Homo sapiens: one gene and its partner. The protein of the gene in region 2 interacts with the protein of the main gene of each other region in a pairwise test. Each region holds a gene or a part of one and is shown on either strand. Other genes may lie near its edges.

Region 1 (4,569 bases), on a different chromosome or scaffold from region 2:
CTGTTTAAAAATACCATCATCTCTTTTTTTCTTATCAATGAAAATGCATATATTTCCTATCATATGGTTGCGCATATTTACCGATTGCTCACAAAGTGCAATGCGCGGCCTTTGCCGCACAATCCCGAGTTCCTTACTCTGGAGTTTATTAAAAGCTTCATTTTGAGAGCCCTCTCATTGGGAGACGCCAGGATTGCCAGAAGCGAACAGAAGCGCTGGCGCATCCCAGCACCAGGCATCGAACTTCCCTGGGCAGCATGGAGAAAAGCTGCCGCCCGCGGGTGGGCTCCTGGCGGGGACGCCCAGCGGCGGGGCGGGGCGAGACGCGGGCGGCCTGCAGCGCTGCAGCCGCAGGAGCCCTCAGGGCTCCGCACAGCCCGGCCCGTTTTCCCCAGAGACTCCCTCCCCTCATGCCTAACCCCAATTCCAGTTTTCCTCAGGCCTTTCGGGTTGCCCCAGGGTTTCTCTCTGGAGTCTAGGCTGACTTCCCCTCTCCACCCGCAGAGCCCTGCGTGGGCCATGGCCATGACCCTGGCGGTGGCTGCAGGCGTCCCGGGCTGTGGAGCAGGGGCTGCGCGCCGGACCGCTGGAGGGTGTGTGGCACAGCGTGGGGACTGGTCGCTGTGTGCTTGTGTCGCTGGCTGCGTGTACTAGGGGATGGGCAAATCACACGGCTGCCGCATACCCACTGCCACCCAGCGCTAAGAAAAGAGCAGGAAAAGCAAAACAAACAAAAAAGAAAAGAAGACAGGGAAATAGAAAGTCGATGTGGGGGATTCCGGAGCTTGAGGAGTGGGAGGCGCCGCGCTCTTCTTGGCTCGCGGCGCCTGGGCTGGCAGACTTGGAGCCCTGGGTGGCCGCAGTCACAGACGTGCTGTGGCGGTGAACTGACTTAAAGACGCGGGAGGGCGGCCTGGGTGAAATGTCCACCGACAGTTCTGCTGGCTTTACGCGTTTACCTCCAATTCTCTGTTCTCCTCCAGCCTCTCTGCCCCTGGCGAACCTCCCTGCTGGTATTTCCGTACATGCAAGAGCCTTGGCATCATCGCCAGGGACTGGCGGGTCGGTGGACTCAGCCTGGGACAATTCTGTATCTCAGGGCAGCCTCGAGGACGGCAATGGGCAGGAAGATAGAGAAAGGGATGCGGATGCTGGAGGCGGACGGAGGCAAAGGGTGTGCCGCCGTGTGTGTCAATAATTCTGGGGAATTTTCACCTCTCCCAGATGAGTCTCTACTTACCCCGTGAGGGGCCCCAGGGGCGCCGGGCAGCGCGCACAGGTGGAATTTCTGCGCGTCTACCGGCACCAGGCATGGACCGCACCTGTCCGTGTCCGAGAGCTACAAGTTAGCGGCGATTGCCTGGGACCTCAGGTGCGGACTCCAAGGGACATTGCGGGCGGGGAGGGGTGCAGCGGTCCCCAGTCTACGACCCCGGGGACTGCCCGGGCGGTTCAGGACCCATTGTGAGTTAGGTGGCGAAGCCCAGGCACTGTCTGGTACCTCATGAGCTTCGGGCTGAGACCTTGTCCCCCAGCCACGGCGGACAGTCCAGCTCCTGCGCGGGGCTCAAATAGGATGGGATTGCAGAATGCTTCCCTCTCCTTTGTCTTGGGACCCTTTCCCCCATTCTAATTGCTTCTCCTCCTTGGCCATGACCTGGAGACCGCAATGGGAAACCTCTCCAGCGCCCAAGGGCTGCTCCGAAAGCGGAGCCGGGGGACAGCTCGGAGCCCGAGCGAGCCGGGCCTCCATCCCACACGCACAGAAGACGCGGTCAGACCCCAGCAGGAAGGAACCCGAGGGGCGGGAGGGACGAAGCTCTCCTTGTCTTGTCCATGGCTGCATCTGGAGTGGGTGGCGGGAGGGGGGTCAGCAACAGTAGAGGGAATGGGGGGCTGGAATAGGGAGCGACGCCGGGACAGCGCAGCTCCCAGGCTGCTTTCGCCACATTCGGCTGGACTCAGTGACCGTCGGAATCGTAGGGGTACCTCGCCTCGCGCTGTGCCTCGTTTGCCCCTTCCTTTCAGACCCGCCATCACTGCTCGCAACCCTCCAAGCCCCAGGATCCAAAGTTTCCGTTTGAGAATCTGCACGTGGGGAGGACCTCCCTCCAATTCCCCCAAGCCCCGACCCCTGAGCCTCCGGCTTGGGGGGATATGAAGGGAGAGACCCCCTGGTGCCAGGGCCCTTGGAGTGGGTAAGCGGAGAGCTGCACAGCGCGGGGCCCTTACCTGTCGCTGGTTTCGCTCCAGTTGCCTCCCCGGCTGCGAGGTGGTGGAGGCTTGAAGGAGCGAGGAGTCCTTTGTGGGTTCAGGGCCGATCCGCTCGGGCTGGAGCTGCGCACCGCTTAGAGTCCGAGGCCAGCTGCCGGTTCTCTTTCTCCCTTGATCTTGCAAAAGAAAAGGAAAAGATTAGTTGATGCCGAGACACTGTAGGGGTGGGGCGGGAGAGGCGGGAGAGGCGGGAGAGAACCGACCCCAAGGCTCTGGCGAGAGCTGCGGGGCTGGCGCGCGCGCAGGCAGAGTCACGCACCCCACACTCGTCTCAGCCACTTGGCTAGTCTGTGACCTGTTCGTGGTTTAGACTGGAGTTAAATTGACGCTGCCCCCGCCCTCCACGCCAAACCACTAAAGGAGAAGCAAACAAGACTTTCAAACCTGGCTTTCACGAAGAGCCTGGAGACCAAAATAGAATGGAGACCTGGATGCCTCGGCGAGCTGGGCTGGATTCATTTCTTCACCAAAGTGCTTGGGGAAGTAGGAATTAGTTTTGGGAGGCAACACCTATTCGGGTACCTCGGCGATTTCCTGGTGAAATCTGCGATTTCCAGGCTCTGGCCAACCCGCAGCCTGGAGTGTGTGAGTGTGTGTGTGTCTGTGTGTGTGTGTGTGTGTGTGTGTGTGCCCGCGCGCGCTCCCTAGGTCTTTGCGCCCTGGCGCCTTTAGTACAGCAGGAGAGCGTGTCTGTATTCGTGCGTGTGTGTTCGATTAGCTGCAATGGGCGGACAATTTCTGGAGAGAACATTTACAATTTTCTTTCAGTATGACAGGATTAGTTGCTGTTGAAGGCGCTCCTCCAATGAAATCTTCTGTGCTCTCTGATTTGGCGGTTCTTCTGAGCAAATATGACAGCCGTTTCTCCAGGCTCTTTTTCGCTTCTCTCCATTTCCATCCCCAGAGCCCAGCTCTCCATCTGCAATTTCTACATCAGAACCACCCCCAACCCCGAGTCCCTTCCCTGCAAGTGTGTGAGTGCTACAAAGGTGACATGGCATATTGGGAAGAACGCAGTATTGCTTTTTGTTTGTCGGAGATACTTAAGCCCAGTTTTTCCAGGTGGGAAAATGTTAGACTAAATCCACTATGCTTTGTAAATATATAATTGTGCTGAACTATTCACAGATTGTTTATTTCTTTGGAGCTTTGACAAATGTATCCGAAGGAGAAGTAATTTTTTTCTCTTACTTTAAATATGAGCCAGTGACCATGTTTTCTTCAGCTAATGGGCAGTAGACTACAGAATATATCTATATCTATATCTGTATCTATATCTATATTCAGAATATGTGTATATCCAGAATATATATATCTAGAATATATATATATATGTCCAGGATATATATATCCAGAATATATAGATATATATATCCAGAATATATATATATATATCCAGAATATATATATATATATCCAGAATATATATATATATCCAGAATATATATATATCCAGAATATATATATATATATATGTCCAGGATATATATATCCAGAATATATATATATATATATATATATATATATATATGTCCAGGATATATATATCCAGAATATATATATATATATCCAGAATATATATATATATATATGTCCAGGATATATATATCCAGAATATATATATATATGTCCAGGATATATATATCCAGAATATATATATGTCCAGAATATATATATATCCAGAAAATATATATATATCCAGAAAATATATATATATATCTCAAAAATATATATATATATATCTCTCTCAAAAAAAAAAATATATATATATATATATATCTCCAGAATATATATATGTTTGATGCTTCAGGGAATTTGTGATCTCCATGAAAAAAGATTTAGGATGCAAACTTTCTGTGTTCAGACCTGCCTTTGATGTTTATTTCTTTATTTTAATGAGAAATTTCTGCCAATAATTGTATCTATTATTTTTAGATACTAACCTCATTTGATAAAAGTACAATGATAGGATTCTAAAGTGTAGCTTAGGCCAAAACTTGCTTTTGTAAAAGCATATGTGTATGTGAATATAACATCAATATATTATATATTACATAGGCTTTATTTTCTCTCATCCAACTTCAATCAAATAAAGAGCAAGAAGTGGAAACCTTAAATTGAATAGCCCAGAATTGGACACATCACTTTTTGGGTCACAGGGATAGACAAAGAGCAAGTTAAAGATACATTGATATAATATAATATAGTCAATTAAATTCAGTTCAGTTCTTGACGTCCAGGGTTTTGCTAGGTATTAAAGGCCATCCACAAGAGCAAAAACCACTGTCCCTGTGT
Region 2 (4,578 bases):
ATTTCTTGGCCCTGGCATTCAAGGCCTGTCATCATTTTCAACACAGCCTGAGGATTCCTGCCTTAACTTTCCGTGCTCCCTACTTTACCCCCATGTTCCAGAGACGCTAGATATATCACTCCTTAAATGCATCAGAGCCTTTTTGAAGGGGATGTTTGGGAAGGGAATTAGGGGCAGAGGTAGGATTACAGGGAGGAAGATGACCAGAGTCAGCTAGAGAGAAAAGGGGCCTAAGAGTGGAGAACCAGAAGATGGGAGGTGAGGAAGGGGAAAGAGAAGGGGAGGAGGAAATTGGGTGGAGGAGGAGAGTAAGGATGAAAAGTACAGAATGTGGGCCAGGCATGGTGGCTCATGCCAGTAATCCCAGAATTTGGGAGGCCAAGGCGGGTGGATCACTTGAGGTCAGGAGTTCGAGACCAGCCTGGCCAACATGGTGAAACCCAGTCTCTACTAAAAATACAAAAATTAGCTGGGCATGGTGGCAGGCGCCTGTAGTCCCAGCTACTGGGGAGGCTGAAGCAAGCAAATCACTTGAACCTGGGAGGCGGAGGTTGCAGTGAGCCCAGATCGCACCACTGCACTCCAGCCTGGGGGACAGAGCGAGACTCTGTCTCAAACAACAACAACAACAACAACAACAACAACAACAACAACAACTACTACTACTACTACTACTACTACTACTACTACTACTACTACTACAACAATGTGAAGGGACTGAGGGGTGGGAGAAAGACAGATGTCTTTGAGGGAAGAGGGCAAGGGCCGTTGGAGAAACCACCTACCCTCTGGGCTTTGGCTTGGTTGTTACAAGTCCTTAGGTCAAGACCTTGACTTAGGATGGCAGGGGGAGGTGTTGATCCTCAGGGAGGAAAGGCTCTTGGTTGTGGATGTGCCTCAGCTGCAGGTGCTGAGTGTTGAAATGCCTTGCCTGAAAGTCTGCTATCTGGGAAGGGGACTTGGATATCTGCAGAACTTCGCAAAGGAGCTCTGGCATGACCTGGGGAAGTGGGTAGGGACAAGGGGTCTAGGGCCAATGAGGGAGGGTCTTGACTGAAGCCTCCGGAACCCGGGCCAGGAGAGTAGGCGCCGGTCACCAGGGCAACCGGAACGCCTAGTAGTCTCCGTGGCAACGGCGGTCTGGTCACCTCCCCGGTGGGTAAGGTCTCCTGAGGGGCTTGCATTGGGCCTCGAGGGGGCGAGCCCAGAGGGTTTACTTCTGAAAAGTGGGGTGTGTGTTGCGGGATCTCTGTGAGCGAGTGTTTGGGTAGGATCTGCGGAGATCTGTGCGTACGTCCGGGGGAGTCTGGGATTGTGAGGATAGGGTTCCTTTGAGACATCTGTGGGGCGGTCGTTGGGGGCTGTGAGGATCTGAGGGGACCTCGGGCTCTGTGCTTGGGGTGAGAAAGGCAGGGTCTCGGGTAGCTGAGGCGGGGGCGGAGTCTGTGTGTCCTCGAAGCCCAGCAGGACTAAGTTGGGGACCAATAGAGTAGGGCGGGGGCGGGCTTTACTGACAGGGACCAATCGAGCCGGCCGGGGGGCGGGGCGTCACGCCGACGTCAAGTCGAGGCCGCCGCCGCGGGGCCTGGTTATCGCCGGTTCAGCGCAGCCCGGAGTCGCCCAGGCCTGAACTCCTACCCAGGTCCCCGGCCCCCGCCCCGGGCCCGCGAGGACACCGGAGGCCACCCCCCGGGGGTGGGGAGCGGAGCCGCGGGCCAGCTCTGCGAGCGCCCCGCGCTGGCCTGTCCGGCCCCGCCCCCGCCCCGGGCCATGGCCCAGCCCTTGTCCCGGCCCCTCGTCCTATCCCAATCCCCGCCTTGGCCCCCAGCCCCGCCCTCGCCCCGCTTCCCACATCGGCCCCAGCCCCTGCCTGGGTCCCCATCCAGGACCCCCTTCCAGTCTCTGCCCCTGGCCTGGCCCCCATCCCGGCCTCGGCCCTCGTTCCACCCCCTGTCACAAATCCCAGCCCAGGCCCTGTCCCAGCCCCATTCCCAGTGTTTGCTTAAGGCCCTGGCTCAACCCCGTCCCTTGCTGCAGTCCCCATCACAGCCCTTCCTTCCATCCCACTCCCTGCCCTTGTTCAAGCCCCAGTGTCCAGCCCAGCCCAACCCATTATCTCAGCCTTTGCCCTCATCTCTGTGTTTACCCAAGTCTCTCCCTCTAGTCCCCCCTATCTCTCATACTCTGCCCCTCTCCCAGCCTAGACTCAAGTCTGGGTTTCAGCTGCCGCCAGCCCTATTGCTGCTGTTGCTGTTCTCTGTCCTTGGCCCAGGGGCTGGTGAGTGCAGAAGCAGGGAAGATTGAGGCAGGAATGGGGTTCCGGCAGGGAGGGGTGGGCTGGAGAGATTCAGGAGAGGTGGGACCTGGGGAACTAGATCATTGGGGAGCAAGTGGGAGAAATAGAGAGTAGAGAGGTCTTACACAACAGGGATTGGCAGGGTCAAAAGAGTGGTAATTAATTGGGTTTGAGGCTCAGCAGGTGGCTTACAGTTTCTAGCACAGAGACTCCAAGATTTTTTCTGGTGTCTGTCCTGACCCCACTTTGACTCTTGCTTTTCCAGGGAAATGTTGTGGGCTTTGCTCCTGCTCACAAAGTTTGATGGGGGAGAGACAGTCCCACACCAGAAGCCCCTAGTGTAGTGTGGGAATATATAGCCCAAACCTTTGAGATATTGGGCATGCATTCAAACGGCATGAAGAAGAGTTTTAAAGATAATATGTAGCAAATAGATGAATATGGATTAGTTGCCATTATAATGAGTTTTCTTCTTGTAATGATTCTTGTTCCAAAGAAGATTGATTTGCCTAGGAATAATTCCTGATACTTTTAGAGCAGGGCTGAAACTCGGAGGCTATTTTACAGATGGGGAAACTGAGGCTCAGGGAGGGAGCAATTTGTCCAAAGTCAGAGAGCTTGTGAATGGCAGTGTGCTGGGGCTAGAAAAAAGGTTTCCTAATTCCTATTTCATACTAGTGTGTTTTTTTTTATCCACTGCAATGTATACTTAATAGAAAAATAGACCCAAGTGGGGAAAGGCTCAAAGCATAACCTCCCTTCTCCCCGGTCTGCCCACAAGGGTGCTTTATCCACAAACTGTTCCTTATTTGCCAGGCGTCAGCCAAGGGCCACCCTCCGGTGGGGAAGTGACTTGGACAGAAGAGAGAGAGGTCCAATTTTTTAATGGTTGGAATGTGGGAGGAGGAGGGGGTGTCCTGGTCTAGGGGATGTGCCATGAAGATGGCTCCATCATGGAGTGACTGTAGTCTTCATGGCCCAAGTCTGTAGCCACCTCTGGTGGGTGTCACTCTAGATAGGATGGAGATGTGCCTGATGGAGTCTTTGGAAATAACAGCCAACAGAACAGCTGGGGGGTGGAGAATGGGTATCAGTGAGCTCTGGGGGCCTGGTTCAGTGTACAAACTTAAGGAGACGAATGCACGTGAAAGGTCACAACCCCTGCAGAGATGTCTGGTCACTTATGTGTATGTGTGTAACTGAGGGATTGTGGGGAGGCTGGCAGCATGTGTACATGCTTGTGTGTTGTTAAGTGTAGACACGTGCATGTGTGTGGGGTGCATGTGAGCCAGTGTATCTTCTGAGCGCCTGTGTTATGGTATGAAGGGGAGGGGACATGTTGTGGCCCATGTACATTCCTCTTCAGCTCTGCCTCCTCCTCATATGGACAGATCACTGAAGCTGTGAATGGGGCTGGAGACCCTTTCTCAGCAGTTCCAAGGGTGAGGGCAGTGTTGCATGCCTCCCATAACGAATATAAGTTATCCATCCATCCCCAGCCAGTGCCTTTGAAGGAAGGAGCTGTGGAGGCACTCTGTGTTGATTACTGCTGCTGGCAAATTGGACACTGGGCAGAGGCAGTAGCCAGTCAGGTTTTCAGTTTTGGTAAGGGGAAGTTTATGCTGTTGGGCCAAGTTCCTAGCTTCCATCCTCTGCCATCATGGCTTCTTCATGTGCCCATTGAGCAAGCATTGGGCTGGTGAGGGGAGCAGGGTGACCGACAGCCACAGAGCATATACAGCTGAAAGTTGTGGATAAAAACACTGTTGCCCAGAAGCAGGTTCAGGTGCTTTGGGGAGAATTGTAATGAAGTTGGAAAAGAGTACCAATACACCCAAATGGAGGCAGGGCTGCCTTTAGTGCTGTTAATAATGAATGCCTTGGCAATTTTGGACCAAAGTACAGGGTGCTCTGTGACCTAATGGTGGTGATGGGTTTTGTCTGAGGAGAGGCTGGCAGTGTCATAGGACCATCATGGCACAGGGCTGCACAGTGCTTATTGGTTGCTTCGGTTTCATTTCAGGAATGGAAGTTATCTCTTGGGTCTAGTGGTCCCACTCCTGATCCTTGGATCTTTTCCTTGGGCTTAGTTGAGGACTCACACGTGCCTTGCTATTCAAAAAAAAATGGGCTTTTATTCTACCTAGTGCTATTACTAGCAGGGCCAGCCTCAGCCTATGTGTGTAGGTGTAGGGGTGTGTGTGTGTGTGTGTGTGTGTGTGTGTGTATGTGTATGTGTGTATGGGGTGGGTGATGGTCGGAATTACCCTAGCTTCATCATA

Evidence for each region.
Region 1: the proteins of TMEM8B (region 2) and CHRM2 interact in a two-hybrid assay, tested with the Homo sapiens proteins (one large-scale study listed by BioGRID and IntAct).

The regions. Positions count from the first base shown.
Region 1 is NC_000007.14:136,867,082-136,871,650, reverse strand, and holds the start of CHRM2 (muscarinic acetylcholine receptor M2), read right to left. Parts: upstream 3,000-4,569; 5' UTR 2,659-2,999; intron 2,567-2,658; exon of another isoform or gene 2,478-2,566; intron 2,406-2,477; exon of another isoform or gene 2,391-2,405; 5' UTR 2,233-2,390; intron 1-2,232. UniProt on the Homo sapiens protein: The muscarinic acetylcholine receptor mediates various cellular responses, including inhibition of adenylate cyclase, breakdown of phosphoinositides and modulation of potassium channels through the action of G proteins.
Region 2 is NC_000009.12:35,827,678-35,832,255, forward strand, and holds the start of TMEM8B (transmembrane protein 8B), read left to right. Parts: upstream 1-1,550; 5' UTR 1,551-1,770; coding exon 1,771-2,278; intron 2,279-4,578. UniProt on the Homo sapiens protein: May function as a regulator of the EGFR pathway. Probable tumor suppressor which may function in cell growth, proliferation and adhesion.